Linked DNA regions of Homo sapiens. The main gene of each other region encodes a partner of the protein of the gene in region 2 in a complex. Each region holds a gene or a part of one and is shown on either strand. Other genes may lie near its edges.

What was found.
Region 1: the proteins of CEP152 (region 2) and CEP63 are in contact, whole or in part, in a crystal structure (PDB 6CSU), measured with the Homo sapiens proteins. Residues at the interface, in NP_001181927.1 of Homo sapiens: Gly1261, Ala1262, Glu1265, Leu1266, Gln1269, Tyr1270, Lys1272, Ala1273, Lys1276, Ile1277, Asp1280, Met1281, Tyr1284, Glu1287, Ser1288, Arg1291, Ala1292, Met1295, Ala1298, Arg1302; in NP_001340037.1 of Homo sapiens: Phe666, Glu669, Glu670, Arg673, Ile677, Arg680, Leu681, His684, Glu687, Leu688, Glu691, Ser692, Thr695, Phe699.

The regions. Positions count from the first base shown.
Region 1 is NC_000003.12:134,526,864-134,543,698, reverse strand, and holds part of CEP63 (centrosomal protein of 63 kDa), read right to left. Parts: intron 11,855-16,835; coding exon 11,759-11,854; intron 10,940-11,758; exon of another isoform or gene 10,922-10,939; coding exon 10,799-10,921; intron 6,545-10,798; coding exon 6,431-6,544; intron 1-6,430. UniProt on the Homo sapiens protein: Required for normal spindle assembly.
Region 2 is NC_000015.10:48,796,001-48,812,835, forward strand, and holds the start of CEP152 (centrosomal protein of 152 kDa), read right to left. Parts: upstream 15,070-16,835; 5' UTR 14,961-15,069; exon of another isoform or gene 14,931-14,960; intron 14,808-14,930; exon of another isoform or gene 14,698-14,807; intron 14,595-14,697; exon of another isoform or gene 14,219-14,594; intron 9,657-14,218; 5' UTR 9,650-9,656; coding exon 9,563-9,649; intron 2,052-9,562; coding exon 1,948-2,051; intron 1,731-1,947; coding exon 1,661-1,730; intron 1,580-1,660; coding exon 1,301-1,579; intron 161-1,300; coding exon 10-160; intron 1-9. UniProt on the Homo sapiens protein: Necessary for centrosome duplication; the function also seems to involve CEP63, CDK5RAP2 and WDR62 through a stepwise assembled complex at the centrosome that recruits CDK2 required for centriole duplication.

The DNA.
Region 1 (16,835 bases), on a different chromosome or scaffold from region 2:
CACAACTAGAAACCCACTGCCAAAATGGGCACTCAGATAATACATAATTGCAAAACACTATCTTTTTAATACTGTAATAGCTACCTAACACTATCAACTCAAATCTGTGATCTTAAACTCAGTATTGATATAATAAACTAATAGTTAAACCAAGGCATACTTTAACCAGTGAGTCTAGATTTGCTAAATACTAATAAACTTCTCAGTTTTGAAGAATGGAGAACATAACCTTCTTTCACTGATTTACTATTTTGGTCACACAAAAATACAGTGTTTTTTAAGCATAGTGAAAAGTACATTAATCAACTCAAGTACAAATTCTAAATTTTCATTGCCTAGAATGCACTAGGGCTGCAATACCATTGCAGTCACCCACACGCGGATATTGCACAACTGAACTGTGGCTAATCTGAATTGAGATGTGCTCTTAACCGTAAAATACAAATTCAGTTGAAGATTTCAAAGACTCATTAAAAAAATGTAAAGTAAATGTTGTAATATTTCTGACATATTGAGTTGAATATATTATTAAAATTAATTTCACCTTTTTACTTTTTAATGTGACTAGTAGAAAATTTTAAATTACATGTGACTCACCAATATCTATTAGCACTACACTAATCTCAAGAACACTTCATCAATACTAAGAAAGTCAGAAATAATTATTTAAAAACTTCTAAAATAATGATTATTTCTGATAATTATCTGGCTTTAGAGGTATTTTAAGGCTGGCATATTTTTAAACTTTTTTTTTTTTTGCACTAACCACTAATTCTTTGAGCCAGAAACAGGCATTCCTCTTATTAATCTAACATTTAGCATTCTATTGGAGTGGGTAGAAGTTATTTCAACAATACAAATCACAGCAGAGGTGGTTAAAAGTAAAGAAGCAATCAAGAAGGCAGTTTACATCAGGGAGACTGAAACTGAAACAAAAGGCCAGTGTGGCCAGCTAAAGTGTGAAAGAGAGTGGAGAAGAAATTGGGGAGTGGGGGTTGAATTCAAATCCTCTTCTGGATTTGTGATAGCTACTTCCTGGTGCTTCAAGAAAATGACTCTCCCAGAGAGTGAGATTACTATGAACAATGTGATATGAAGCAACAAGGCTTTTTATTTTCCAAAGAATCCCAGTATGAAGGTACGGCCATTGTAAGCATCAATCCCTTACCAAGCTCCCCATCACTGTCAACTCCAAATGCGCCAGTGCAGGCCACAGCCTCACAGCATTTCCACTAGAGAGCAGCCTAAAGAGCCTATTAACAACACAGCTCCTAGTAAGATTCTCTTATCACTGTTGTGTCTATGCTACTACGAACTTTTAAACAGTAGGTCTAAGCCAATTCAATTAACTCTGATAATTCTACCAAGACAACAGATCAACATTTGAGTTAGGGTCATTTTTTTCTTCAAAAGTTGTGACAGGAAAAGGATGCTTTTAAAAATACAACATATATACGTATAAATATATTTATATACATATAATTAACAGTGGATTTAAAATTAACTTGAAGAATATTTTACAGCTCATCTAAGTATTTCAAAAGGAAAACATAGAGCAACCTCTACTTTTTTCACATACTGTTTATCAGTTAAATATTTTACATTTTATGTTGGCTTAATATTTTAATTTTTTTCAAATGTTCTTACTGTTCTCTAAGATTTCCTTGAACATTTCCTTTGCATTATGTAGGCAACAGAAAAAGTAGCCTTCTAAACAGAAATGACCTTAGTTTTAGACTGTACTGATCCTTTTCCTATACTATATAACCACGACTCTTTTGTTACATCTAGCATTACAGTTTAACAACTGTACTTTTTAATAAAATACATTTTAATATTTGATAGAACAAACATCCCCCCATTACTCCTTTTTAAAAAATGCTGGTGGCCAGGCGCAGTGGCTCACACCTGTAATCCCAGCACTCTGGGAGGCTGAGGCGGGTGGATCACTTGAGGTCAGGAGTTCGAGAAAAGCCTGACCAGGATAGTAAAACCCCATCTCTACTAAAAACACAAAATCAGTTGGGCATGGTGGTGCACGCCTGTAATCCTAGCTACTTGGGATGCTGAGGAGGAGGATCGTTTGATCTGGGAGGCGGAGGTTGCAGCGAGCCGAGATTGTGCCACTGCACTCCAGCCTGGGCAACAAGAGCGAAAATCCGTCTCAAAAAAAAAAAAAAAAAAAAAAGTTGGCTAGTATCGTTCATTTATCATTCCATATGAATTTTAGAGTCATTTTGTCCAATCCTGAAAATGTAATAGTCAGTAAATTATATAACCATTTAAAAAACAAATTTAGATTCCTATCAAATACCTTACACTAAAGTAATTTTTAGATAAAATGTATTAAAAAGAAATGATAAAGCATTAGAAGAAATTTGACTTAGGTAAGACTTTATAGTATGATATCAAAGATAGAAACGCTGAACAAAAAATTGATAGAATTAAGCAATTCTAATTAACTGTTTATAAAACAATTGTACTTCCATAAAAAATACTGGGCAAAAATTAAGGTAAATTGAGTACACATACGCAACTGTAACATAATAGCAAAGGGCTTATATTTCATACTTAAGTGTATGGAAAGCTCTTTCAGAATAGTAAAATATAAACATCCGGCCAGGTGCGATGGTTCACGCCTGTAATCCTAGCACTTTGGGAGGCCAAGGTGGGCAGATCACTTGAGGTCTGGAGTTCAAGACCAACATGGCCAACATGGTGAAACCCTGTCTCTACTGAAAATACAAAAATTAGCTGAGCGTGGTGGTGAGCACCTGTAATCCCAGCTACTCAGGAGGCTGAGGCAGGAGAACTGCTTGAAGGGAGGCAGAGGTTGCAGTCAGCCGAGATCAGGCCACTGTACTCCAGGCTGGGCAACCGAGGCTCCATCTCAAAAAAGAAAATAAATTAAGATTTAAAAAAAAAAAAAAAAAATCCTAAAACAAAGGTGAATAAAGGACACAAATAATTTATGAAAAATGAAGATGGCCATAAACAGATGAAAAAAGTCCTCAACCTCACTCATATTAAAACAATGTATATTAAAACAATGGTATCATTTTTTTTCACCTATAAGATTGGCAAAGACAAGCCTAAAAGTGGGGAAAGTCAAAAGAAATAATAGCGCTCAATGTGGGGAAAGTATGAGGAAATGGATATTCTCACATACTGCTAGAGAAAGTCTATCAATCCATCATTGGAGAAAACTTTGGCAATATATATTAAAATATTTGAAGGTACTCTGATACAGTAAATCCAATTCTAGGGCCATTTCCTAAGAAAATAAATACTCCTAAATGTTTATATAAGGATGTTAATCTAAGCACTATTTACAAAAGTGAAAAGTAAAAAACTAAATGTTCTACAATAAGGGACTGGTTACAAATGTCATTATACATTTAACGATAGGGGGGAATTCTACACAATCATTATGACTACAAATCTGTTGACATGTCATATTTAAAAAGGAAAAATTTTAAAGCTGTGACGTGCTTAGCATAGTACCTGTCACTTAGTAAGCATTCTATATATTTTAAAGTTATTGTTTCATGGAAAATTTCAAGCATACACAAATATAGAGAGAGTAAGATGATGAACCCCTATCACACAGCTTCAAAAATTATCAACACTTTGCTACTCTCAGGACTTTTTAAAGTTTGCAACTACCCCTCCTTTCCCATTCACAGTGCATATAGGTTTTTCCTATCAAAAGTACATGAATGTACTGCACACTGTATGTAAGCATACACAAAGTCAGAAGAAATTTACACCAAAATTTTATTCATCGTAAATCTCTTAACGGTAGAATTATGGGTGATTTATTTATTTCTCATTTTATCCGCATTTTCTCATTTTTCTAAAATAAGCATGTATTATGTAATTTTAATAGCTGATTAAAAGAAATGAATTCAAGCAAACATATGTCAAAGAAGGAGAAGTTGTTTCCGAATTATACTTTTAGATGTTAAAAACATATAAGAAAAAAATTATACAGAGATTTTTTTTTAATGGAGGGTAGGTTAATATCCACTTACTCAGCCTCCCAGGTTTTCTACTGTCATTGTTCAATGGTGACCCACCTTTCAACCAAATGCAATACATCAACCTTGACTGGATTCTGACTCAAACATTCAATTGTAAAAAGATAGTTTTCTGGACAACTGGAGAAATGTGAACAGACTGGATATTAAATTATATTAAGAAGTTATTATTCTATTAATGTGATACTGATATATTGTTATTTTTTAAGTCCTTACCTGTTGGGAAATAAGATGATATCTATGATTTGCTCTGTAATATTCCACCCAAAAATAAGAAGTAGGGAATGGTATAGAGTTTCAGTTTGACAAGATAAAAAAGTTCTAGAGATCTGTTGCACAACAGTGTACATATAGTTAACATTACTATACTATACATTTAAAAATGGTTAAGGTGGAACATTTTATGTGTATTTTACCATAATTAAAATAAAGATTGACAAGATGATGACAACTATTAATGCTACTTAATGGATATAGATAAGTTTATTTAGATGTTTAAAAAAATGATGATCATACAGCACTGGTATATACTGAATCACTGAAAGATTTAATTTTATTTAGTTTGCTAAGGGAGAAGGATAAATACATTTATATGTAACATTTTTATTAAACAATCAGACAGTTTTAGGTTAAACAAAACTATCAGAAGAATTAATTCAAACACCCTTAGTAGGAAAAACAAATGTTGGCTGTTGAAAGGCTTCTTACCCTAGCCCTAGCTGAATTACAGTAAGTAAAAATCCCATTTTTACTAATAATGAAGTTTTAATTACATAGAGTCAATAATCACAACAGTAATATGAAATAGGATAACAGTAATTTGAAGAGAGAATCTATAATCAATAATACTCCATGGATAAATAATTGAGAACTGTAAAAATTAAGACTCAATTTGCTTTTTTGTCAATCTGAAGGCTACAACTAGAATATAACAATATCTTGGTCAAGTGTGGTGGCTCACACCTGTAATCCCAGCACTTTAGGAGGCCAAGGTGGAAGGATTGCTGGAGCCCAGGAATTCAAGATCAGCCTGAGCAATGCAGCAAGACCTCATCTCAAGAAAACCAAAAAAAATTTTTTGTTGTTAAAAAAATATATATATACATATATATATATATATATATACACACACACACAATTTCTTATTAGGTCTCTATGGTGCTTTGGCATTCAAGTCAAAAAAACTGGTCCAGACATCTCAGGATTTCACTGGTCTGTCTGGCTGCACAGCTTGCTGTGGCCTAGAAAATAAATTTCTTCCTTGCAATTGTTGTGGACTTTTCCTACCATTTTGAATGAAGTCACTCACAGCAGAGCCACAGCCACTGTCGGTAGTTTATCAGACTGCTGATATTTCAGGGAGACGAACAAAAAGTTAATGCATTATTGAGACTTAAAATAGCAAATAAATGCAGATTATTTTTAAAAACCCAAAAAGCCAAAAAAAAAAAAAAAAAAAACCCTCCCTTCTAGCTATTTCAACTTACCCAGGCTGTTCCCTCATTCTATAAAACTAAGATAACTACCAACCTTGACAGATTATCATAATATTAAACAGAGAACACATACAAGAAGCACTGGGTCAATGTCTAGCACATAACAGATGATCACAAATTTTTTTAGTTTCCTTTATGTTCTTGATTCTAACTGAAAAAGGAATGAGCTGAATATGTTCTTACAAGACATATTCCTAAAGTAGGTGTCTGTTTTTTGGTTTTGCTTAAGCCATTACAAGAAAAGTTTCTATCAATGTTCTAAAATAAGTGTTTTTGTTACCACAAAGACACCACTTTTAGTTGGTGTGCACACCATTGCCATGTGACTCTCTCCGTATCTGTCCGCATAGGCAGACTAACTGAAGCTCCCTAGCTGAGACACTTCGGCCAAGATACCCCAGTGACCATAGGGATGGAGCAAGGCACAGACTATAGTAGAGCTGAGAGACCCAACAAGAGACAGAAAGACATGGAAAAGGAGACAGAGGGAGGAATGGGACTGTGGTAGGGAAGAAAGAGAGGGGAGGAAGAGAGGGCGACAAAGCTAGGGACCAAGATGAGGAGAGTGAACATGGATGCAAGCATAGAGTGAGCCTGAGTAAGCAAGACAATGACAGAGAGTGGGTGAGCAAGTCAGAAACAAGCAAGGAGGCAAAGCAGCAAGCGGGCACAAGGACATGAGCCTGGACAGGAGAGTGAATGCACGCATGTGTGAGGGCAGGCGGGAAGAAGGAGCTGAGTCTAGATGCTGAGGAGAGGCTTCCTAAACAAGAGAGCAGGGTTCGTGGAGAGAAGCTGAAAGAGGCTAAATGGTACTAGGACACTGCATTAAGGTAGTTCAAACTTGATCAAAACCTATCTGCTTCTCATTATTTTAAAAAGTCTTAGGCCTACCTGAATTATCTCTGATTGTTCAGCCAGAGCCTTCCTTTGTGCCTCCAGTGAAGATACCTGTTGCTGATAAATCAAGCGTTGCTTCTCCCAGTCCAGCGATTTCTGACGGAATTCCTGAGGAGGCAATTAGAGTACTTAATTTCTGAGTGCTTCTCCTCACTGTCACTACTTCCCAGACTCCCTTTAACTTTAATTTCTCCCCATGTCCCTGGGTACGCTTGCACCTTTCTCCACAGCGGGAGCCCCATTACTCACTCAGCTAACAGAGCTGGAGAGTAATACTAACTTCCTCACATACTGTGCCTCTGGATATCTGTCTTTCTAAATTTAACACCCTGATGGTGAGGAGTATGACACGCAGATGTTAAGCACTGGATTCAGATGTTTTTCACTGATTTGCTGCCACCTAAGGGTTGTTATAATTTTCTAGTGAATTTTCAGAAAACTGATGCTAAGATAACTAAAATTTTAAAGTATGATTACAGATATCCCTCGCTATCCAAATTCTTGATATCCAGACCCAGGAATTGAACAGATTAAATTTTCAGATAAGTCCCTTGGTAACCCAAATCTTACTTCCCAGTATCTAAAACTAAGGAACCAAGTAGATTCAGATAACACAATATCCTTTGATATCCAAATTTGTATTATCTCAACAGAGGAACTGCAAAAGTTTGAATAACAAAGAAAATCTGTACCAAATTTTAACAAATATTTGTAACCCAAAGCCAAACAGTTCAAAATTAATGATGGATCAATAGTAACATCAAATTGCATGATCAAGAAAGTGATTTCAATATTTATGAAAATGGGGCAAATCAAAGGGAAAGGAAACTCAATCTTTCTATCACTGTCTTCCAGGACCCTCAACTCCAGAAGTCTCAGGCTCCTTAAGATAAGTGTTGTTAACCAAATTTCTGATATTCATTCATTCATTCAATCATTCTACTATATATGCCAGGTACTGCTTTAGGAGTCAGGGATACAATACTTAACAAAACAAACAAAAACCCTAGTCCTACTCAACTGGGGGCAACAGATGACACATTTCTTGTATGGTATAGCAGATGGTAATACACGTTTTGGAGAAAACAGAGCATGAAGTCTTCACAGTTGGGGTTGTAATTTTTAAAAGGGATGGCCAGACTGAGTGAAAAACATTTAAGTAAACACCTAGGGAGATGAGGGTGAAGTTACAATATTCTGGGTGGAAAGAATAGCCTTGAAATAAGAGCATCCTGGTGTGTTTAAGGGTGAGAAAGGAAATTGGTGTGGCTGGAATAAAGTGAATGAAAGGGAAAGTAGGAGAAGACAAGGTAAGAGAGATAACTGGGAATGAGACCACGTAGGCCATTAGGATAACAGATTTTTAAGAGAAGCTGCTGGAAGGTTTTTGTATAGGAAGTGATATAATTTGACTTACATTACAGCAGAATCATTCTGGCTATCATGCTGAGAAAAGAGAAGTCTAGGATGACTCCGAGGTTTTAGGTTGAGCAAATTGAGTTGTTATCAACTAAAACATGAATCAGTGTTGGGGAGATGAGGAAGAGAAAGACAGGACCTTTAGCTTGGACATGTTAAGTTTGACACATTTTAGACATCATAGTGGAGATAGGAAACAGGCAGTTGAAAGTTATTCTGTCATGAAGAGGCGAGGTCTTGGCTAGATATATAAATTTAGGAATTGTCAGCATATACACAGTGTTAAAGCTATGAAATTCAATGGGATCAATAGGGGAGTGAGCGTAGATAGGAAAAAAAAAAAGGAAAGGAAAGGTCCAATGACATGACCCTAGGTGGTTAAGGAATAATGGAGACTGAGGAGTGATGAACAAGGAAAAAATGAGAGAAATGTGGTTTTTCTCAAGCCAAGTCAAGAAAGTGGTTAAGGAGTTGGGAGAGACCAGCTCTCCTACAAAGCTGTAGGTAGGATGAGGAAGATAAGGACCAGCCCACAGGCTTTGGGAATGTGGAAGTCACTGGTGACCTCTATGTGAACAGCTTCTGCAGTGTGAGGGGACAAAAGCCTTATTGAGTGGGTACAAGAACAATGAGACAAGAGGAACTGGAGACAAGTATAGATGACTGAAGTAATTTTTTAGTTATAAAATGGAAGAAATAAAATGGGGCAGAGGAGGAAGAGACGGGTCAAGAGAGGATATTTAAGAGGAGGGAAATTTGGATGCTGGTAAAAAATATCCAGTAGAGAAAAAAAATTAAGGGTGCAGAAAAGAGAAGGTGAACTGCTAAGGTAATGCCTTGGGTAGAAAAGGGGGAGGGCATGCGTAGTTCCTCCAGGAAGGAAGGCAGGGTACATGGGCACAGATGCAGATAGGTGGGTGGACACAAGAGTTGGAAGTCTATAAACAGAAAGGAAGATATAACCCAAAGGTGAGGATGTGGGGAAAGGTGTTGAGAGTTTGAGGAGAAAAGCAGAAGTCTGAAATACTCATTGTGGAAAGTAGGAGATGAGAGGAAATACAGTATGATTCCAGGTAGCATTAGGACCCATTTGAGGTTAGTGACCATGAATTTAAAGTGAGAACAGACAGTATGATTAGGTTTTTCTCTAGCCACGTTCAGCGATACATGACAGGTAGAGAGTGGGCAGAAAGGTGGACTTAAGCAGAACTGTGATTCTGCCAAGCAAATATGAGGAAGCAAGAGAGGAGCACAGGAGATGAAGGGGAAAGTAAAAAATGTAATGACAGAATTTAAAAGCTGGCTAAGGACCGATAAGTGAGAACACCAAGTAGATAATGGAGCAGTAAAAAGGTGGCAGAATTTAATCATTTTAAGGGATGGTTAATGATTACTGAGAGTCAAAGGACTAGAGAGAGTTAGCTGAAAAGATAGGGATTGGTAGTCTGATAATTGAATGCTTGAAAATGAGATTCTAGAGGGGTGGCATATATTGGTAATGACAAGAGCTAAGGAATGGCAGTGGGAATAAGTAGATGAGACACAAAGATAATCAAACTATCTATGGAGGAAAGAAAGCCAAGAAACTGTAAGGTCAGAGTATTATAAGCATCATCTCTCCAGATCCTAAGATCCTCAAAGTTATGATAAGAGTAATGTCAGAGAGAATTGACAGTGAGCTGGGTGCTGAAATCAATGAGCCAAGGAAATAACCCAGAGGTCAGACGATGACTATTTTGGTTGTTATGTTCATTGGCTGGCAGTATAGGCTGGTAACATGAAAATCAAAGATGGGGTTTTTGAGGTAGAAAGAAAAGAGAATAGTCAGGAAGTGGCAATGAGAAGCAAGAAGGATATAGGGTTTGGGGGGAAAAGGTATTGCCGAAAAGGGTGGAAGGGAAGCAGTAGCTGCAGTCTTCTGATTCTAAGCTCTTCAAATGTAAAAAAATATTGAGATATAAAGGAATATTAAACACAGAAATTATAATTTTAAGTAATAATAATATACTGGCATTTGTGGGTGACAGGTCACCCAGAGTACAAACTTGTAAGTGATCACACAAAGATGTTGAACAATGTTTCTCAAATCAGAATAAGCTAGGGGAGCTGGATACAATGCAGATCCCTAGGTCCTATGCCATACTGCTGGATCAGCATTTCTGAGAGCCTAAAAGCACCCTGGGAATTCTTATGTCCAGTGAAGAACTAATGGCAAGGACAGACGAAGAGAATGACAGCCTTGTGCTCTTCCTTCATCTACTCTTGGTACTATTAGCTCACCAGCTCCCCTTAAGTTCTCAATATATACAATAATCATGGAGTTATTCAGTCTTAATAAAAACAAAGTCAGCAGAGAAGGAAGTGAATGCCTTACTACATCTAAATGGGAATTGAGAATAATCTGATACAGAGATTACTTTGTACGAAAAGTGCCATGTACTTTCCACATTTACTAAGCCCCCACTTTATTAGGTGCTTGAGATACAATGATATATAAGACAAGAACAATGTCCATAGAGGACTGCCTATAACTAGTGGTCATGTTTCCCAATTGGAGAGTTACTGGCATTTGAGGTACAATAATCCTTCCTGTGTGGAACACTCTTAGGCATGTTTAGTATCCCTGGTCCCTGTCCCCTAAATGCCAGTTTTATTAAGCTCAGTCATTTTGACAACCAAAAAAATATGTCTCCGTACATTTGCAAATGCTCCCTAAGGGTGGTACTGCCCTGTTGAGAATTACTGATGGCCAGTAACCCCGTTAACCCAGGGAACTAGATGATGATAGGATGTATGGTGGATCACCCTCTCACCTCTGAAATAGCTTAGTGGCAGTCCTTAAGATAGTAGAAAATTGGTTCCAGAAAATAGTGCCATTAGAAACCGCATTTTCCTACGTGAAGGCTGACAATCACTATGAACAAATTATTACTATGAACATACCTCTATTTTTGCAGTTAACCTCTCAATTTCAGACCGATCTTCCCTGTGATTTTTGGTATTTCCTCTGAATTCCCTCATTTGCTTTTTCTGAAGCTTTTCATAGCTTCTCTTCAGTATGCATAACTGTAGAAACAGTTATTTCTATATTTAAAGTTTAAGAATTTGTAAGAAGTAGTGGTGAGACAAATTGGTATTATGAAAACAAGAGCAGTGCTAACCAGTACTACTGAGAACATGTTAGATTTCCAAACTAAAACACAAAAGGAAACTAAAAATTAAATATGTAAAACAAACACTACTAAAGAAATATATTCAAAGAAAAAATTTTAAAAAAAATTTTAAACAAAAGTTTTGTATTACAATAGCCCTGCACTTAAAGACCCTACCACCCAGCCCCACAATAAAGCAGCAAATAAAAACTCTTTTTCTTTCCTCTAGGTCTGTGATTCTCAAGCCATGCTCTTGCAGGGCACTGATATTCAGGATGCAGGAGAAGAGTACTTTGCAATTAAATCAGAATAAAAGCAGTTTTTTCCAAATCTGAAGAATAAAATTGAGTTAATGGACAGAATTTTCTTACTTGTCTTATTTATCCCAAAATGTTTCTTAAATCTTTGGATCCTCCATTATTTATAATCTAGTAACTGATAAAAATTAAAATATTAAATGTAATTTTTGGTATCAAGTATTTCACAGTATTACATAAAAACAGCTCTATTTCTTTCAGGTACTCAACCAAGAAACATATTTTAGCATCTCTTCTAGGTAGTATCAAACCTACAGTTAGGCAAACCTCTTTACCTGGATTAAAGAACAGAGAAATGGATTCCCACTCCTGTATCTTTGATGGAGTATGTATTTCCCACTTTACAAAGTAGAAACTGGCTTTCATTAACAAAGTTCTCAAGGGTGAAAGAGAGAGAACTACACACACAACATTTAACAAAACTAAAATCTCACTTCTTCATGTAGTTTCTTCAACTCCTGCTTATATTCCATGGTCATCTCTTGCTTGATTTTTTCATGTTCTTCTACCTGCTGATGCAACATTCCAACCTAAAAGCAGAAAGGTGGTAGTATTTTTCACTATTAGCATTGAAATAACATCCCTGAGATATAAAAATAGAAAATAATCTCTGTATTTATTTGTAAATTCAAGTTCTCAAATGCATATATATGGTGATACCCCACTTCTTAGGAAGTCAAATACCTAGTTATTTAAGAATTCTTTACACTGCCAAAAAATAGTGAACAAACAGCTAGTTTTTAGAATTTCTAGGTTTAGATGAAGACTCTCTCTCTTTTTCTTTTTTTCTTTTTGAGATGGGAGTCTCACTCTCGCCCAGGCTGGAGTGCAGTGGTGCAATCTTGGCTCACTGCAACCTCTGCCTCCCAAGTTTAAACAATTGTCTGCCTCGGTCTCCCAAGTAGCTGGGATTACAGGCGCATGCCACCACACCTGGCGAATTTTTATATTTTTAGTAGAGACAGGGTTTCCCCATCTTGGCCAGGCTGGTCTTGAACTCCTGACCTCGTGATCCACCTGTCTCAGCCTCCCAAGGTGCTGGGATTACAGGCGTGAGCCATCGCGCCCGGCCGAAACTGTGTCTCTCTGTCTGATTATCCTACTCAACCCTTTTCATCAAAAAAACTCATGAAAATAAGAAATATAAAGTGTTGAGAGTCCTGGAAACCAACAATACTTCATAAAAAATCTAGAAGACCTTAGGAATAATTTCTCTACAATAAAGTACAGAATAGTAACGTCAGACAGGAAAACAAAAGGAGGTTTGTGCCTGCTTTACCATTCACCCAACTCCAGAGAAACGAGTTCCACCAACCATGGTAAGGAAGTTATCCTAACCCACTTTTCAATGATTTGATACCAGTGACACCTATTTTCTGCCAAGCCTTCACCTCCACAAGTATCCAGCAGTATTTCTTTTAATAACCAGCTAGAATTTCATCTACTGGTAAGTAGGGAGGGAGAGGGAAAACAGGGAACACAAGGGAGTAAACAATCACAATCTACAACAGTAAATTTTTTTAAAGTACTAGAAATAAGCTACTTATAAGAATGAGGACTAAATGCAATTCCAATAAAAAATTATAGTGGAATTTATTTTTGTAAGAAACTTGAAAAAGTCATTCTAAAGTTCAAACTGGAAGAATGGGTAAATACAGCCAATAAAATGGAAAAGTCTAGTTTTAAAAAAAGATGTAAGTGAATGATGTAACTGAATTTCTGGATGAAAGGAAATTTTCTGAGCTTAAAACTAATGAAAAAGTAATTTTAAAATGATAAATTTAACCATGTAAAACTTCTATTTTTAAAAAATCCAATTAACAAAATTAAAAGGTAAATAAATTGAGAAAAATATTTACAAAAAAATCAAAGGGCTTTTAACTTTTAGTACACAAAAGACTTACAAATTTGTAAAAAGTATTAAGCTCTCAACAGAAAAATAACTCAAGGACAAGAATGATTCCCACAAAAATATAAATGTCCAATAAACATGAAAAAAGGCTTAATTTCACTAGCAATCAGAGGAAAACATCCAATGGCATTTTATATCTATCAAATTAGCAAAGATCTTATAAAACGAAACTTGTGCGGGTAAGTTATCTGGAATCAAAGACCCATAAAGTGCTGAAATACAAAGCACATGACTTTTCCAGAAAGCAATGTGGGAGTCGATATTAAAACACTTATAAATATTCTTAACCTTGTTGGGCGCGGTGGCTCATGCCTGTAATCCCAGCACTTTGGGAGGCTGAGGCAGGCGGATCACGAGGTCAGGAGCTCAAGACCATCCTGGCTCACACGGTGAAACCCCATCTCTACTAAAAATACAAAAAATTAGCCAGGTGTGGTGGCGGGTGCCTGTAGTCCCAGCTACTCGGGAGGCCAAGGCAGGAGAATGGTGTGAACCCAGAGGACGGAGCTTGCAGTGAGCCCAGATCGTGCCACTGCACTCCAGCCTGGGCGACAGAGCAAGACCCCGTCTAAAAAAAAAAAAAAAAAAAAAAAATTTCTTAACCTTGACTTGGTAAACACTACTTTTAGAAATCCATGTAAAAAAAATAAATGTAGAGCCAGGTAGAGTGGCTCACACCTGTAATCTCAGCACTTTAGGAGGCAGAGGCAGGAGGATGGCTTGAGCCCAGGAGTTTAAGACCAGCCTGGGCAACATGGTGAGACCCTTTCTCTACAAAAAAGGAAAAGAAGAAAATAAATGTAGATGTTAAGAATTTGTTGGGGCCGGGTGCGGTGGCTCACACCTGTAGTCACAGCACTTTGGGAGGCCAAGGCAGGCGGATCACTTGAGTTCAGGAGTTTGAGACCAGCCTGGCCAACACGACAAAACCTCATCTCTACCAAAAATACAAAAATTAGTTAGACCTGGTGGCAGGTGCCTGTAATCCCAGCCACTCAGGAGGCTGTGGCACAAGAATCGCTTGAACCCAGGAGGTGGAGGTTGCACTGAGCTGAGATGGCACCACTGCACTCCAGCCTGGGCAACAGAGTGAGACTCAGTCTCAAAAAAAAAAAAAAAAAAAGTCAATGGGGATTTGTTCTTTTATAAAAACTGGACAAATTGGAAAAAATCTGTATGTTTATAAATAAACTGTGAATGAATATAATGAATGAATGTACATAATAAAATATGCAAACATTAAGCTGTATTAAAATAGTTAACATGAAAAATGCTTACCATTTAAAAGACATATCGATATAAAAAGTATACTATACTAAAATCCCAATTTTGTGAAGGATTTTTACTGAAGTCTACTTACATAGCTTAAAGGAAATACACCAAATGTTAATACAGATTAACTCTGATTCAAGGTATTATGATTATGTTTTGCTTCATAGTTGGTCTTTTCTAAATTTTCTCCAATGGCTACTGCTTTTATTAGCAAGAAAAGAACATTTTAAAAAAGAAAAGAAAAGAGGCTGACCCTAAGCCCACCTACTTTGCTTTGATAAAGATCATGAGGACTCATCTGTTTGATTAAAACAAGTTGAAGAGTCTTAACTATTCGTATTTCCTAGCCCACAATCCACCAGAAGATCCAAAATTAGAAAGTATGGTAGGTAGAAGGGGTAACTGCAATGCTCAGCAGAAATGAGCAATAGCTTTTAGCAAAGACAGAAGAAAAAAGGGAAACAGATTATCCCAAAAGGAGACTCATGTCTACACTGCTATAACCCGTAAAGACAAAGCACATCAAGCACATCAGTATGTAACAGCCATTACTCCTAACATACCACAACCAAGAGAAAAGGCAACCCTCAAAACACCACACACACACACACACACACACACGCACACACACACACACCCCTCCTTAAGCTTTCAGTAGTGTGGCCTTTTGGCCCTCTATCACATGTTAGACAAGACCCACCTGCAGAATTATAAAAACTTTAAATGATTTCATAAGATCTGCTAACAGCATGGAAGCTGACTACGGAGTTCTCAAACTTAGCCTAAAGAGTTCTTTGACCAAGGTTTTTAAAAATTGAAGACAAAGAACGGGGGAGAAAAAAACCAGGGGGAGGGCAAGATGGCTGACTAGACACAGCCAGGAGGAAAAGCTGCCAATGAGGGACTGAGACAACTGGTGTGCTCCTAACAGATCTTCAGAGGGGGTCACTGAAGAGTGGATGGAGGGAAGACACAGAAGCTGGGCTGAAGGGGGAGGAAGCTGGGAACCATACATGAGGCGACTACGCACCTGGACTCATTCCTGGCCCAAACAGCTCTGGAAAAACAAGTGAGCTGAACTAGCAAGGAGCAACCCACTCTTGCCACGGGCCTCTGGAACCTCTCGCCCACCATGAACACTCAAGTTGACAGGGTGAGCCACTTAGAGAAGTGATAGGGGCAGCAAGCCAGCTGATATGGAGCCCAGAGGGTTTGGTGTGAGAGAATCTGTGGTGGGGCATGGCCAGGGATAGCCATCCCCTTAGGCTTAACTGGCACCCATAGGAGACTTTAGCTCTAAGGCAACTGTTGGACCCGAACTCTGCAGGGTAGTCTTGTCCATCATATGGGGCCGGTCTCATCTGACCACCCCTTGGCCTGCTGGCCTCTCCCAGGGCCCCAGCCTGGCCACACATGCTTACAGGGCAGCCTTGGGTGGCCTGGGGGACTGCATCATAGCTTCTGTGCTGGCAGACTATGCCTGACCAGCAGAGAGCTCCAGCAGAGTGGCCCCCATGGCTATGCACCAGCCTGTACATTCAGTCCCCATACTGCAGCTTCCCTAGGCCCATAGCAACTCCCCACATGGCTTTGCTGGCATGTGCCTATGCCGGCAGGTTTTGCTTTTCTTGCCCCACCAGCAGGCAAGTGTACATGTATCCACCTTGACACTGCTGTGGCGGGAGTGCAGTTCATTTCCCATGTCCCCACTGACCACCACTGCAGACAGAACCTTGGTGGGCACCAAACCAGCCAGCCCTGCCTCCACCAGTGCCCCTTCCTTGCACCAACACTGCCGCAGGAGTGAAACTAGGCACAGAGAATAACAGATCCTCCCCTGCATGGAGCAACCACTCCTGTTTGCAGTACACAGAGAAGGCACACAGACCTGCAACTGCCAGCGCCCTGCCCCCAAGCCAACACCACCACCAGTGCCACTGTGCACAGTCGCCAGCAGGGGTCCCCGCTCACCTCCCAGCTGTGTTGCCTCCTCCACTGTGGTGAATGCTCTCAGGGAGGCAGGCACCCTGGCACCCACCAGCACCCTGGCATAGCTGACAAGTGTGTCCCCCACTGCACTGCTGCTACCACTGCTGCTGGCACATGTAAACAAGGATGAATCCCACTGTCACCACACTATGAAATGCTTTGGCTGCCACCACCCATTGTGGTGTAGTGACTAGTGGTCTGGGAGCACTCTGACCCCCCAATGCAGTGGATTCCTAACTTCAAGGAGCCAGAGAAAAAAGTTGGGGCCCAATACGAGCCCCCCCAGAGTTAGAGCACACAGTCTAGGAGTTGGGGGCTGAGCAATGGCCACCGAAAAT
Region 2 (16,835 bases):
GATACCTACTCTCATTAGCTCCTAAAAATTGTTGTTGCAGGCCTTCGAATGTGTCACTTCCTGTTATCTCCTGGGCTGGTGAGCCATTATTCTGGGCAGAAGACTGATAAGGTTTATATGTCACTTTATTATACGGTTCCAAACCTTGACAACTGGGACCCTGTGATAACAAATGAAACTGACAATTAAGATTTGGCCTTTTCTTCCAAAATTATCTGAATTAGACACCTAAATTAATGTTACGTTACAGAACTTACTTTTGGTACAGTTCAAAGTTGTTTATATATATACACACACACACACACACACACACACACACACACATATATATATCTGCTCAAAAGTAGCACGTATTGTTATTTAACACTATTAATTGAAAGTCTGCAATACATAATTTATAGACACCTAAATTCTACTTTTGAGCACACAATGAAGGCAATTTTATAAATAAAACCCAAGAATTCCAATAAGACTATATAGAAATATTTTATTACAAATGATTTAGATTATGCCAACATCTTGGGAATATAAAAATGCACATATCCAATAACATGAACATGGACCACGGTGCCTCATATCTAATAAATAGTAACTCTTATGGGATGAATAATAACATTCTACGGAGATAGAATTAAGAGAAAATAACCACTTAACAGCCTAAAAAATCCATCCTGTCATTGCGTGACACAGACTAGCTGTTGAGGTATTTGCTGTCATTGAGAAATTCTAAGAAGCAACTAACTATATCCTGAGGTCTTACTTCATTAAACTCCCCCCCAGGAAAAACAAGGTTTTTTGGTTTTTCCTTCACATTCATCCTGTCTACTGTTATATCACCATACAATAGAGATATCAGCTTTGACATGTTTAACCTAAAATTTGTTATGGGTGGTGAGCAAGAAAACTGAGGAAATTAAATGTTGCCACCTACACAGAATTACTGCTTTAAAAACTACAATAAGAGACCTGAACACAGCTTCTCATTGAAGCACAGTGCAGTGGTAGAAGCAGCAGTAAATGAGGATAGTTATTCTTTGGCAGACTTAACTTTTAATGTTTAATCAACTATGTCCAAAGAGCCTCTATTTTAAACTTCTGACTTAAGATCATGATTGTATTAGACTGTAAACAGAAAATACCATGACTAATTCACCATGAACCTGAATAAGTGCCCTCTCAGAACTTCGTGTGGTTAAATCATCTTACCATTGTACTCACATACATTTCCTGAACACACACAAACATCACGCAAATGCGTGTGCACACACACAAGTTCTTGAAAGTCAAGTTTTTACAATACCTGAAAATGGTTCCATTGAGGATCTGAAAATTTAATTACATTGGTTGCTTGGTTATTAAATTCCTGCTTCTGACCATTGGTATATGGCCTAAAGTTTTCAGGAAGGTGATATAAATCAGTCTGTTCACATTTACTTGGAGGACTATAACCACTTCCACCTTCATCTCCACCTTCTTCAGGATGGTACACAGGATGTCGGTCTTCAGTTTTACTTCTATTTTCTTCCCAGACATTACCACATTTTTCTCCAGCATATAAACTCTGAATTTCATTATAGCCCTATTAGATAACAAGAGTAAAACAAAAGCACGAAGATCCAGTCCCACCCTCACCAAAGTCATCATCACACCAGATACTTACATTTACACTTTGAGATTTGGGCAGCATTTGCTCATTCCAGCTCATCTCCAATTGCTCAGGATGATGTGGTCTCGAGAAAAAGGAATACTTTCGATTTAAAGCGTATCATTTATTTGTACATAGATAACACAAAGAACCCCAAGATTTTAACCTTTTTCCTTCCAATCTTCACCCAAAATTTTAAGAATCAATTTACAATTTTATAATCATGTAATTATTAATCTTCATCAAAAGAAAAAGACTTATAGAATTGCAATATACAAGTGAAAGTGACTTCAGGTGCTTACTGTCCGTCTGTGCCATCCTCGCTGCAGTCCGAATACTGGAGCTCTGGAGAGGAGAGGTCGTCATCCAGCATGTCATGGGGAAGGTCTGTGAGTAACTGCTGCAACTGAGTCAAAAGGTCTGCATCAATATCATACCAACTTAAACACAAGACACCAAGCCAAAGCTGCCTTGGAACGAGTGGTTTTTTACTGTAGAGGTCAAAGAAGTTCATAATTCCCTCCTTTAATTAACTTCTTAAGTTCCACACAAATTATATTCATCATTTCACTTGGGGAAAAGGGAATGCATAATTTTAGGATTTATATCAGAAGGCTTTTTTTTTTTTTAACGAAGATCTCAGATTTAAATACACATAGAGCAGAATTCAAAAACTTTTTTATGGAAACACAGCAAGTCACAATAATGGTACAATCAATGCATTATGTTATCACAGGGCAGGCAGACTAAGTCTCAGAATCCTGTTTTATCAGTAATCAGACCTTGGGGAATTGACAATTAGGCATCCCACAGGGAATGTGAGTAGCCAGATGCACTCTGGCCAGGTGATGAGAACAGCAGCAGCAGCAGGTGGCCTAGAAGCTCTTAAATGCTCTGATAATGTAGAAACCCGTGGGAGTCACTAATTAGTAGAGAGCCATCTAATTCCAAAGATGAAAAGATACATAATACCCTGCTCTCATACAACATCTGAGTAAAAGAAGAGTTGGAAGACTGTTTTCTATAGATAGCACATGCAAAAGCATGACACTACATCTGACATTAAATGTTTGATTTCTCTCTCCTATTATTTTCTAGAAAAAAATCAGTTTTAGCATTCTGCTTATTATATAAACTAGATAGACAAAATTAATTCATTCAAATTTCAAATGTGATAAAAAGATGAGTAAATAAGCTAGTCTGTTAGACATAATTCAATAACATTTAGGATTTCAATAACTGTCTGCTATTGTCTTTCTTCAAAACCCAATATAATAATATTACCCTAAAAATCCCAATATAATGTATTTCTTAAATTATGTAACAATTAGAAGATCAAATATTATGTTACTAAATACTTTTTAGGGAAACTGTTTCTAATTACTTCTCTTTAAGAAACTAAGCACCAGTTTAATTGACAGCTTGATTAAATCCCTCCAAAGGACATAAATCAAACCCCATAACATTGTGCAAGTGGATTTTAAAGACTTTAAATACTTTGTAAAACCTTTCAGGAAAAAAAAAATGAGATGCTCCCTGGTCTATAGCATTTTTTTTCCACTTTACCTGTCATTAGTACAAAAGAAATGGAATGTGTCCATAAAACATATCTGAGTATTATATTAAGAATTACCAAAAAAAAAAGTTTCTTAAACAAAATATGTATAGTAAAAGTTAAATAAATATATTTTATGGAAGGTCTGAAAGGAATGCCCCAAATTCTTAACTGAGCTTTGGTGAAATAAAATTTGGGAATGGGAACAGAGTATGTTGGAGGTGGGTGGGAATACTTCCTCACTCTATATTTATTTCTCATATTCACTGGATGGGTTTTTTTTAAAGGGTTTCTCAATCCATTTGTCATCTAAAGATGCAACAAGAGAAAGATATTTTCTTCAATGAAAAGTTATCTTCATCTTTAAATCTTTTAACGCTAACATTAACACACAAGACCCTCATTAAATGCTCATCTCCACATGCAAGGTACTTGAAAAATCATTTTGAGAATTAGCCATATCAGAGTTGACTGAGAGATATAAAAAACAAGAAATACAAAAGACACAACATGAAAAACAAAACAGAACACATCAACATATTTGTACAAGACATGCCTCAAATGAAAGGTAGCAAAGCAATTCTACAAAGACACAAATGCACTAGAGAAAAAAGTTGCATCTATGAGGTCTTTTAAAAGTAGCACCACTTGTTGTCTAGAATTATGCATCACTGCTTTAAGGAAAAAGACTACCCCCACATGTTACACAAGGAAAAATAAAACAAATCTTTTATACTTACATTAAGTAAAGACTCCTGAACAGAAAGAATATTTTCTTGTAAACCTTCAGTAAGGTTCAAGTACATAGCCTTAAAATTCAGGGGCGCCTTGACAGGGACATCTGAAGAGTACATTGTTTTCCCCGCACAAAAACAAAAAACTACATAATAATTCAGCAGTTATTGTAGCTTTGTGACACCACAAAATTGGCATCCACAGAGAAAAATTAATTTGAGTATAAGCAATCAGCTAATCAAAATGCTTCTGGATACATACATAAACATCAACTAGCAAAATCATCCCTATAGTATTCAGAGTCTTGCAAGATATTTTACATATATGCTAACATTTTAAAATTGATCTTCAAAAAATTTATCCATCAAGTTCTTTGGCATAGCTGGGTCATATTCCCTGGCTTCTGTAAGTTTCAGGGCAGAGAAAAGCTAAATGAAGTCCTCCTAAATAAGGCCATTCAGGAACAAAATTCCACCTCCAGTGTTTCCATTTCCCAGGATCAAAGTGTGCCCTCCTCATATACATTGTCAAATTGCCCTTTGGTCACTAACCTTGTGCAATAAAACACAAAATTGCCGTATCTAGATATGCATGTTACCAAATACAGAAATTTAGAAACTATAAATTTTCCTCATTAAAGATCTATCAAACTTCCAAATACAGATTCAAGAACAGAAATAACAATCCTTATAAGTGATAAGATTTAATACCACTCATTAATTTAAAATTCATCAGACTGCTTTTTGGCAGCAAGCAGCAATCTCAACAGGATATTACTGTGTATTAACCGAGTTTAAAAATTTAACAGATACCTTCCCTGTAAGAAAGATAATTTGCCACTCTAAGGCTTCAGTTGAAATAAATTCAGAATCATTCTATAAACTCCCCTCCTTTTCTACTTCATGTTTCTTTCTTAAAAAGAAAAAAAAAGAGAGCATTTTACTCAAAGAACTTTGTTAACAAAACACTTTGCAATAACCCATGTAGAACATACAAAAGCCTACATTCAGGGGCAAATGTAAAACAGAGAACATGTAAACCTTTTGTTAGGATTTTCAACTTAAATTAACTAAACAGATTATCTTCAGAGCCTATAATCCTCAATATTCATGAAGGCAAGAGGCCTCAAGTTACAAACCATACAATAATCTTCTCCCAAGAGAAAGGGTAGCAAATGGAATACCTAACGGTCATATTCCCTTTGAACAGGTGACCTCTTAGTACGCTTCTAAAAAGATTCTGATATTTTCAAATATGAATTATTAAATAATGCTTTCATGGATACACGCTAAATGTAAACAAATACTAGCTTTACAACTCCCTCTAGTGGAAACAAAATATCAAAATGCTTCCGCAATTACATCAAACAAGGCAGTTAAAAAGTGGAAGAAAGGCTATGCAATGGAAACCTTGCCTCTAAAATACATGATGCTGAGCTCAATGGAGCTTTATTATTCTATTAGAGAAGTACCACTATAAAAACCAAGTCAGTATTGCCAAGTGCAAGTTTCTATCTGCCACCTGCTACCTAAACCATCTACCTTTCTACTCAAGATCATTTTCAAATATGTCATCACTAAATGACCCGTCAACACTAAATGATCCATCATCAGCAAATATTATCTTGATATCATAGATTACCAAGTATTTCTGCCCCAAATCACCAGCTCCAGAATATATACACACATAAATAGATAATTTTACTATCTGGAACCAACAACAATCACAGAGCTACTTCTGGTGACACTGCAGAAAGTACATGTCTACTCCAGCTGACTGTGAGAGTCCAAAATGGCAATCTTGTTTAAGCTGTGGCTTTACCAACAACTGAGAGGCTTATAACAAGCATGCCTATTACAAAAAGACCTTTATCTGGGGCTGGGTGCAGTGGCTCACACCTGTAATCACAGCACTTTGGGAGGCCGAGGCAGTTGGATCACCTGAAGTCAGGAGTTCAAGACCAGCCTGGCCAACATGGCAAAACCCTGTCTCTACTAAAAATACAAAAAAAATTAGCCAGGCATGGTGGTGCATGCCTCTAATCCCAGCTACTTGGGAGGCTGAGGCAGGAGAATCGCTTGAACCCGGGAGGCAGCGTCAGCCAAGATCCCGTGATTGCACTCCAGCATGGGCAACAGAGCGAGACTCCATCTCAAAAAAAAAAAAAAAGAACTATATCTCTGTAATATCCAACTGTGCAATCACAAGTATAGAGACTTAGGTGAAAAGCATTTTTGCAAAGTCATATTGTTACATTATGAGTGAGTTAATACAAGAGCTTCTGAATTATTTTCTGGGACAGCTTTATAAAGAAAAGTTTGCTTTGGATGATATCTCCTTCTTAGCAAGAAGGACAAGTATTACCAGCAGCTCTCAAGTGGTACAATCAGAAAATAATGCCCTCCAGTTAGTTAGGAGAAACATAAGTAATGTGTGACAATTAATTGATATTAACTGACGATACATATCTCTATGATGTCATCACTCTCACTGATCTACACCCTAATCTGCTCTGTCGACTATTTTTAAGAGATGAGAGTTTCAGTTGAAACACTGTGAGAAGCTGTGGTTTATGTACCTCTCTACTATGCCTTTATGCCTTGACTCACAGTGGGCCAACTTTTACTAATGTACCATTAAGAGTTGTAGCACTTTAGAAATACATTATAGGACGTTTCTAAAAAATTCTTGCTTTTTTTTTTCCCAAAATATGGGTATATTTGTGATGGTCTCTGGCTTGAGATCCACTGGTCTAAATATCCTCTAAATATTGAATAAAGTATTTACTAAATCCTTTCCTTTTTCTGAATGTTAAAGGCACTTTCTCCCTTTGACCTTCAATACAAACAATGGAGAGAATAGAAATGGAAAAAGCAAAATCATAATTGTAAAGCTGCTCATTAGGATGGCATGAAGGTTGGAATGGTGTATTCATTGGGATATGGGCCCATGTGGACAAAATCCCAACTGGCACCAAAACAACAAAATTAAACACAGCTTGGAAAAACATGCTGTATTAGCAACTAGCCTTTCATCCCAGGCAGTGAAAATCAGGACTATCCAACCATGTACCAAGACAGGCTCTCACAAACCCTTAGCAGGGTAGACTATGAGTCAGATGTGGTATGCCTGGTAAGCCTTATAGCACATCATCAGGGATAAAGGCATTCCTCCCACATCAGCAACTTGAACACAAAGTGATTCACTAAGTAGAGAAAGCAATATGCATTAGCCCACTGCTAACAGTTATAACCTAGCCACAATCCCAAAGCCACAGTCCCAAAGCTACCAACCAGGTAGACAGGATAAAACAGCTTTTTTTCTTTAATCTCTTAAGGCTGTGAACCATTTGGCTATTGCTGGGTCAGGAAGACTGAGACAGTTAAAAAAAACCTTCTAGATATGCATTCAAGCTTGGGTTTGACCACCCAATTTATTACTTTAACTTGTAGTGACAAAGTATACATACAGCTGAAGATTTGTGAACAGTTCCGAAGTTTGTTACTAAAATTTGAACCTCTCTAGCCTCTCATCTCACTTTTTCCCTTGCAGCAATTATTTTTTAAAGTAAAAATATTTTTATTAACATGAAGTTTTTTACAAATTTAACCATAATCATCATGTTAGAGTCAATTCAGCTATATATCCTTCCACTCTGCTAGAAATACTCATTCTTAGATACTTGATCTTTCAAGAACAACTTTTCCCCTGAAATTCCCTATCCCAGCATACAATCTATCAAAGAGGTGATCCCAAATAGCTGTTTTCTATATTATCTAGAATTAATTGCCTCCTTAACTAGTATCCCCTCTAAAATTTTAACCACACAATACACTGGCAGACCTATCTCTCTAATATATTTCTCAATGAAAAATCACCTGTCAAAATATTTTTTCTTCTTTACAGTAGTGATTATTTAAACTGACCTTCTCAAGAATCCCAGTGGCTAAACCCCAGCCAACTATCCAAGCCCAGTCATGAATACCTCATGCTGCAGGTTCAAAGTAACAGAAAATCCTCATTCCCATCCTTGCCACAATTGTTGTGAGGGGCCCTGCCAAAATCCGGAAACCCTCACCAGGGTCATAAACTCAAATGCCCTCAGGGCCCTGGCAGAGAATTTACCAGAGTGAAGCAGGCAGGTCTGAGTGCATAAGCCCATGTCTGTGTGAGAAGTGGGGACTGTGGCCAGCTGGGGAAGGAGAGCCACTGCTCAGTTCCAGCCCGCCTGCTGCCATGTGCAAATACAGGCCAGGTGTGGCCAGGGCTTTGGATGTTTTTTAGATAAGCCAGAGACTCTGCAGTGCTGCATAAAATTTTCCCATCTTCAAATACAGATTCAATTTTTTAAAAGCACTCTGCAACCAACAATACCTGTCTGAACCAAATCCAGCAAGTTGCCAGTTTTCTATCACTGCCTTAATTCTACCACCAGCCACATGAGCAATGGTCAACTGACCCTATTCCTTGCTTCCTGTTAATACTCATGGTCCACAATAACTATTAAAAAAGACTTTTTTACATGTTAGAAAATGGGTCATATAAAAAATAGCGTCAGGACAAAAGAAGCCTTTTATCACAGACAATCAAGAAATTTGACTTACACTAAAAACAACCAAAACAACTAAATTGACTTCCACCAATAACACTATTACTGCTGCTATTACTATTGCCACCATTTACTGAACATTTGCTATGTGCCAAGAATTCTGCTAAACACTTTACATATAAATAATATGGTCTCTCCCTTTTATTCCTTTCCTTCTATAATCTATTCACCATGCAGCCTTCTGAAAGATCTTCAAAAATATGATATCAATTTTCCCTGCTTAAAATCCTCCACTGGCTTCCCATTGTTCTTAGAATAAAATACAAACACCTTATCATGGCTTTCCATGATCTGACACCCACATCCACCACCCAACACTGGCTCATATATACCCAATACCATGGCCTTCTGGCCGCTCCACATGATCTGTGGCATACACGGGGTCTCTTCCCAACTTCCCAGCTTACACTCATTGGTGTTTTGGCGTAGACTGCTCTTCCTCAGGCTTCTGCATGGCTGGTTCCTTCTCATGAGTCAAGTCTCAGCTCATATATTGCCTCCTCCCACAGACCCTCCCTCACCACCCCATCTACAGCAATCCCCTATCAATTGCTTTCATAGCACTCCAATTTGTTTCCCTGTCATTTATCAATGATAAATTATCACTCACTCAAATTACTTTACTCACTTGTTTACTTGTTTATTGTCTGCCTCCACTAGGATGTAAACTACCCAAAGCAAAGAGCCTTGTCAGACTTGTTCATGGCAATGTTTCAAGCACCTAGAAACTAACCTTCCACTTCCAAAGCCAACCATTACCTCCTAAATGAAAAGAAAAATTTAACCATTTATCTGATGGTATTATTCACAGTTGTGTTTTATTCCTGTCTCAAAAACAGAAGCATTCCACTTATTCACCTTTTCAGTCTAAATAGCAAGCAGATTTTAGGGTTGTTTTTTTTTTAAAAAATCCAAATCCCTTCAAAATGACACAAGATGATACAATTTTGATCAAGAAATAAAACTTGTTAAAGATTGGGTTTAGTGTCTCTTTTTTTTTTTTTTTTTAACAACTTACCTCTTTCTCTCTTTCATAGTCCTCTTCGTCATACTCTTCATCTTCATTTTGCACTGGTAGTGCCACACTGCCAAAGTCTAATGACATGGTCCTCCTGTGGGAAGGGAAAGATGTTTGGTTTCTGGACACCACATAAAATCTCCCCAGGACAAACTACATAAGAGATGCCATACATACACAAAGTGAAAAGACAGAAACAGACTGGGAGAAAATATGTATAACTCAGTTATGGCCAATAAAAATAATGGTGATTCACCGAAAATAGCTATATGACAGCAATTCATGGAAAAGAAAACATGCAAATAGGTAATAAAGCTATGAATAGACCTTTCTAGTGGTCTGAAGAGTATAAAACAGTAAGATTTTTGCCGACATGAAAAATAAGATGACAATAATAATAAACTAGAAATGTGCCAAATGTAAAAATCTTAAGCTCAAACAAAACTTCAAATGTGATATATTAAACATGGCACAGGCAGTACCCTATTGCTTCATTTTTTTTTAATATCAGAAATCCAAATATCATGCTTTACAAGAAGAAGGCCCCTAAATCATGAGTGAATGACTACTACCCAGAAACCATTTACAATTCAGTCAATGCCATAGAGTGCACAACAAAATATAAGTCTTAAATGTCCTCCTCTTAAGCTTGATAAAATCAGGTTCTGGCAATATACTCGGGAAAAACAGAAGTGAAGGCTGTGAAGCTCCACCACTGTGGACTTCCAATTCCAAAAGCAACAGCAAGAGTTCCCTGGGGAGCAGTGACTGCTGCGGCAGAAGCAGCAGCAGGAAATGGGTTTTCAACTACTTACATTCAAAAAAGCTGCTGCTGATTTAACTTGTACTTAGGGATCCTGACACTATACATAAACTCCTCAGAACTTCAAAGCTCTGAACAATCACAACAAAAAAGTAGGCAGGTGTCATCAATTACCTGGCCTAACACTGCCCTCCATTCAGTCCACTGTTGTTCATGCCAATGAAACGCACTTGGATGTGAGCCTGAGCCACAACTCATTCACTACACCTTTCAAGCTCTAAAATGTCATTAAATTGGAAGTAAAATCAGAAGCATGGAGACCCAGCAATCCAAATGCATTTTACCATAGAGAACTTAGCTCCCTCGTCTTAACAGATACGAACTATATCACAAACTTTTGTGGAAGCCAATAGCTCTAGAGCAGACAATATCCCATTTCATCAGATCTAAGATGTCTTTGATTCTATGATGCAGTTCCATTTGTAGCAGTAGGAACGAGATGTAGCCAATCAAATTATGACATAACATTAATTTTAGGACGCAGTCTATGTTGTAGATATTAAAGTGTGAAAAGAAAATATGCAAGCTAGAATAGATGAATATGGTATTAAAGATTAACATACATATGAACTTCAGTGGTAAAAATCCCCCTATGACAAGTTTTTGTTTTTCAAAGACTGAGTTATGTTTCTTGGCCAACCTCTAATTTGCAGTCTACCTTCTAATCCCTTCCTCTCTGGTCCCTACACCCAACCCGTCCCTTTAAACTCATATCAACTCAGACTATACCTCAACTTAAAACCCTCCAGCCTCTGCTTCTCAGACCACACCTATTCCTTTCTACCCTTGTGACAGGGCTAAACGGGGGAAGAGACATGCATATCGAGGAAAATAAATCTATCTATAAGAATCCTTTTGTATGTCAACATAAGATGAAGATATGAATATGATAAAAAGCCTGTAACATGAAATGGTGAGGGAAAAACACACAATCTCATGTCTCTAGATTTTTTTCCACTATGCAAATAGACTTAATATTCTACAGAACACTATATATATTGAAAATACTAGCCCAATTAAATCCTATGTCCTTAAAAGAGATGCCTGTAGTCCCAGCTACTCGGGAGGCTGAGGAAGGAGAAGGGCGTGAACCCGGGAAGCGGAGCTTGCAGTGAGCCGAGATTGCGCCACTGCAGTCCGCAGTCCGGCCTGGGCGACAGAGCGAGACTCCGTCTCAAAAAAAAAAAAAAAAAAGAGATGAAATTAAGCTGGACCTTAAAGAAATTCCTGAATCCTCCAGGCAGAAAAAATCCTTTCTGTTTCTGAATTCTGTGTCTTCTACCTTTCTTTCATTCAAATATAAATACAAGACGAAATATGGAATTTGGGTTACTTTCTCCTTCATTAAGTTAGAGAAGAGAGGTTTGTTCCCATCCTTTATTAACCTGCCATCAACTGATGTTGATTATTGAAAAAGAACATTAAGATTTATAAGAGCCTATTGCTAAAAATGTAGCTACTAATATTTTAAATAGACAGCTACTTTTTCTCAGATAGAGAATACTTAGGGTTTTGTTTTTAAAGAGAATGTAAAATATCAAAGTATATATCTTTAATGTTATTTTAAATTCAAAACATGTCATTAAAGAAGACATCTAAAAATACCTGAAAAGACCAAAATCTCCCCCACTGAAGAAGGTATAAGTTTTCCTTATCAGAACTATAAACTATAAAAGACTTTAAGAAATGATTTCAGACATAAAGGGAAACCTGATCAACTTAATGTGGTTAAAAATATATATAGTAAAAAGGTAATACATATTTTAAATGAGACTTAAAATAAAAGCTAATACCTTAACTTATTAATCACCACTCATTATCACTGCTACCAGAGACTTTAGTATAATATTCAGAACAACAAAAGAGACTTCTTTAAAAAAAAAAAATAGCAAGATAGTAAATCCAAAAGCCATAAAGAAAAATGTGATGGAAACCTAACCACAAAAAATAAAATTTTGTTTAAGGCAAAAGACATCATTAACGAGTCAAATATTATATATGAAAAAATACATCAATAACAAAGTCAAGAAAAATAAGAATAAAAAAAATTTGCAAAGCACCTGACAAAGTCCCAATATAAAATTATTACAAAGAAATGAGAAAAAGACAATCCAATATAAAATTGGGCGACTGACATGACAATTTATTTTAAAAAGTGTAAATCAATTAGTTTGAAAAGATGCTTAAGCTCGTGATGTTTCAAAGAAGTGTCATTTAAACAATATGCCATTTTCAACCACTAGATTGAAAAAACAAACAAACAAAAAAAAAACTTGTTATCACCCAGTGGTGACTATTTTGTATTTTGTATGGCTCATGAGTTGCTGGTGAAAATATCAACTGCTAAACCATCTTGAAAACTATCAATATTAATATATTGAAAATTAACATTTACACTAGTAAAATTATTTTGAATTAATTTGTCAATACTATGCCACTAGTAAAAATACTGAAAATTTTCTATATCTATTGACTCAAGGCTGACCACTTGAGAAATCAAGATGCAGATTAAGTATACAGTATGTTTTGGTTTTCTTCTTCAATAGCAGTCTGGTAGACTTTCTTCCTAGATAACTTTTTCTGAACCCTTAACAAGACTATAAAAAGTATGTCTTGTTGTTACACTCAGATGGATGCTCTGACCCAGCATTCCTTTTGTTGTCCCCGGTTGTTTTCTCTGCCCTCCTTGCAACAAAAGCAATGGGTATTTGGACAAAAGATTACAAAGCAAAAGTAGCATTGTTTTTGCTTCATCTAATAAACTATAAGCACCCTGAAGGCAGAATTAAAATGTATCTGCCTGCTTGCACATGGTGGGTACATAACAAATATTTGTTGACTGAATATGATATAGGCATGTTACCTTATACGAATTCATTACTTCAATAAAATTTTATTGAATACCCACTGTGTTCCAGATCATATCCTAGATGCACCTAAGACATGGTACCAGCCATGAGGAGCTCACTGTCTCTGCTCACCCTCTCTTAGATAGAGCCACTGATATAAACAGTTACAATAACATATTGTAATAAATTCCGTAGTAGATGAAAGTACAAAGCACAAATTACTTTTCCTAAGAAGAAAGGATAGTTTAGAGAAGTTTTACAGAAAAAAAAGAGCTTTTAGATTAGAAATAAATCTTAAAGGACACAATATGGCTATAAGTGGTTCTAAGAATGAGGGCACTCATTCAGACAACCTGGGCTCAATTCTGGCTCTTCTATTTATCAGCAGTGCAATCTTGAGCAAACTGTTTCTGCTTCTACGTTAAAGAAATGGGGGTAAAAATAATACCTACTTCAAAGATTGATTCTGAGGATTCACAAGATACTACATGTAAAGTAATTAGCACTATGTACCAATCAATACATTGTAGTTTTATTACTATTATGACATTATTACTGATGAATAGGAGTCTGCCAGCTACCGAAGAGGTTTAGGGAATAAAGAGGATTCCGCATATCTGAGAAAAGGTGAATGTGCAGCCTATGAGAAATGTCACTTCTAATAATGCAACCTCCTATGGAACAAAAATGCCACCCTCCTTCAAGATGCCCTCCCAAGCCTGTTCCCCCATGGAGCTGGCCACTCCTTTGCACTTTCAGACTGTATTTCTTATGCTTTTCTTATGGCTTCAACTTCAGCTTCTCTTTAGTTGAGTGCATTCACCTGTCTAGGGAGTGCATGTTCATTGTCACGCACTATGAAGGTATAAGGTGATAATAGGCTTAAATCAGACTCAAGTTCATGACTACGATATAGGAAGGGTTATAAACCCCCACAAAAGGGGTTTCTAAGAACTGCACTTGGAGTTGGGAAATTCTACTTACTTGCTGACATAACTCGCCTTCTAGAATGGAAATAGCCAGAGCACATAGCCCGGTTTAGACTTGCAACACCTGGTGGAGACACCTTATTCATTCATTCGACAATTTACCAAGCACTGTTCAAGATTACAAAGTTTAACAGGACACGATGAAGGGAAAGAAAATAGACATATAAACAAATGATCACAACATCTTGTGATCAGTGCTAATAACAGCACTTTGGACAAATTGATTCAAGTTGCCCAGAGGGCGGAGCGAGTAATGCTAATACACAATAAGCATCCACAGGCTGAGCGAATGACCTTGAGGAACTGTTTGGCGTCAGCTACGGCACTACAAACATGACCAAAGCCGCACGGGGCCCAGGATGCCCGGGGCTACTGGCTTCGGGTGCCAGCGTCACTTGTACTCGGTCAACACACGTGCACAGAGCACCTACTGTGAGCCAGGCGTGACGCCAGGGTGACCAAGGCGGGGTCCGCAGAGTAGGGTCTCAGGGCGACCCCAGCAGCCTGGAAACGAGGCGGGCTTCCCATATGTCACTTCTAAGTAGGATATTGGAGGAATGAAGAGGTCTAAATGACACGTTAAGGTAAAAGCTGAGCCCGCAACATGCGGGCAGTCCACCACCGCGGGATTTGGGGAGGGGGCAGGTCAGCCCCCCCAGGAACCCTCAGCCAGCATCCCGAGGACCCCGCAACTCCTCTAACCCCAGGTCCAAGCTCACCCGTGAATCAGAACTTACCGGAGGCCACGGAGGCTGTTACCGCGAGGAAACTCTAGTCCTGGCGGAAGACCAACTTCTAGCAGATCCCCTTACCCTGGCTCTAGTCCACTAGCTCCTTCCTAGTCACAACCGAACTCACGGGGCGGAGGCCCTTAAGGAGCACTCGCATCCTTCAATCGCCGACTAGAAGCTCGCCCGGTGGGCGGAGCCGTGCCAGCTCAGGGCAGAGCGAGGAGGCAGAAGTCTCCGCCTTCCTCAAGCTTGGTTGAGAAGTCCACCTGCAGTTGCAAAGTACGGCTGTTTGAAAGCGGGCGCCAGAGGTGGCGGGAAGCTCCCCCTGTGCGCCCATTGGTGGATTCGAGAGCCAATTACGAGGAAGTCACCCCGGAGTGGGCGGGCTGATCGGTTGCCTAGAGACGCCGAGGCGCTTCACCCGCTACCTTCGGCCAGGGTGCAGCAGTCTTACGGGGACCCCTTGCCCGTTTGGTACCGGAGACTGCAAAGGTGACTCGTGCCTCCTGCGCTTCAGCACACAGAATCCCGCAGATTCCCCACCGAACTCTTGCCTTAGAGGTTTTTTACATTTGCCCTTGTTTTCTAAGGCGCCTGCTTCCCCATTATTTAACAGCCTTAGATATTTTGCTTTGTCTTCTACCTTACTAGGTGCCGCTTTGTTTACATTTTTGCTTCTTTAATTACTGATAAGATGGCACATTTTTCCACGTGTCTATTTACTACTCTAATTTCCTCGGGTGTGAGTGTTCTTGTCACTTAGGTGTATATTATTAACCTGCCCCTAAAGACAGCGCCACCCAGTCCTCAGTAAAGCCCAGTACTGTGTCTATCTTCTCTGGCTGAAAGGGTTCCAGTGAATAATCAAGGAATTGGTGGCGGCAGGTTCACATATCCTTTCAACCCTTTCCCATGTGTACTGGCACGGAGTAAAATGGTTGTTCGAGGCTCTTCATACTGTGGCTGGTTTTCCTTTGCTACTTCACCGTCCGCCCCCATGATGCCTACACTGACCCCTGTAACCCCATAAACTGGTATAGGGTTTGGCAAACAACAGGTAATTTAACCCACTGTAATAGAATGAACGAAATCACAGCCTGAGCTAACAATGGTTCCCAGAGCGCTTTTTTTCTTTCACCTGCTGTGAAAGCTGTTTCTTTCACCTGCATCGCCTCTACCTTCTCCTGCTACTTAGTTTTGAAGACAGACTAGCACCTCCTTTGAAGCCTTTCATGACACACACTCCCTCACTTCGCAAAAATGATCTTTCCTACCTCTGTACACAGTGTATCCTATATATCCTATTATAGTTCTTTTATCTACTGTAAGTTTTTGTGTGTCTTACACTCAGTACAACGTGAATATCTTGAAGTACTCACTTTACTTCTTGGGTGTCTAACATGACCCTGGTAGGCACTCAAAACAATTATGTTAAATGAGTAAATGAATAAATGAACAAATAGATGAAGATTTTGGCAGGGGGGCAGGCAGAAAAAGCAAATAAAAGGCCTTCAAGTAAATGGCATTTGTTGAATCTGAGCCAAGGCATCTTAGTGAGAATTAAATGCACTTTTCACTTTTCACATCCCACTGAAGTCGATTGGCAAACTGTATGTTGCATTCTGTGCTGAGGGTTATGATGGAGTGCTGCAGCAAGAATGCCAGGTGATCCCCATGCACAAACAACTGCTTCTTAGAAGGATGAAAGCATAAAACGTGTCAGGGTAAGCACATGAGGAGGCAGTGTTTATAATCCATTACACAGTGCTTTACAGATTGGTAAATTCTTTCACAAGCATCATCTCATTTGGTTCTCACTACAACACTGTGGGGGGTTAGGACAGGTATTCCTACCCATTTTCCAGTTGAAGAAACTTACAT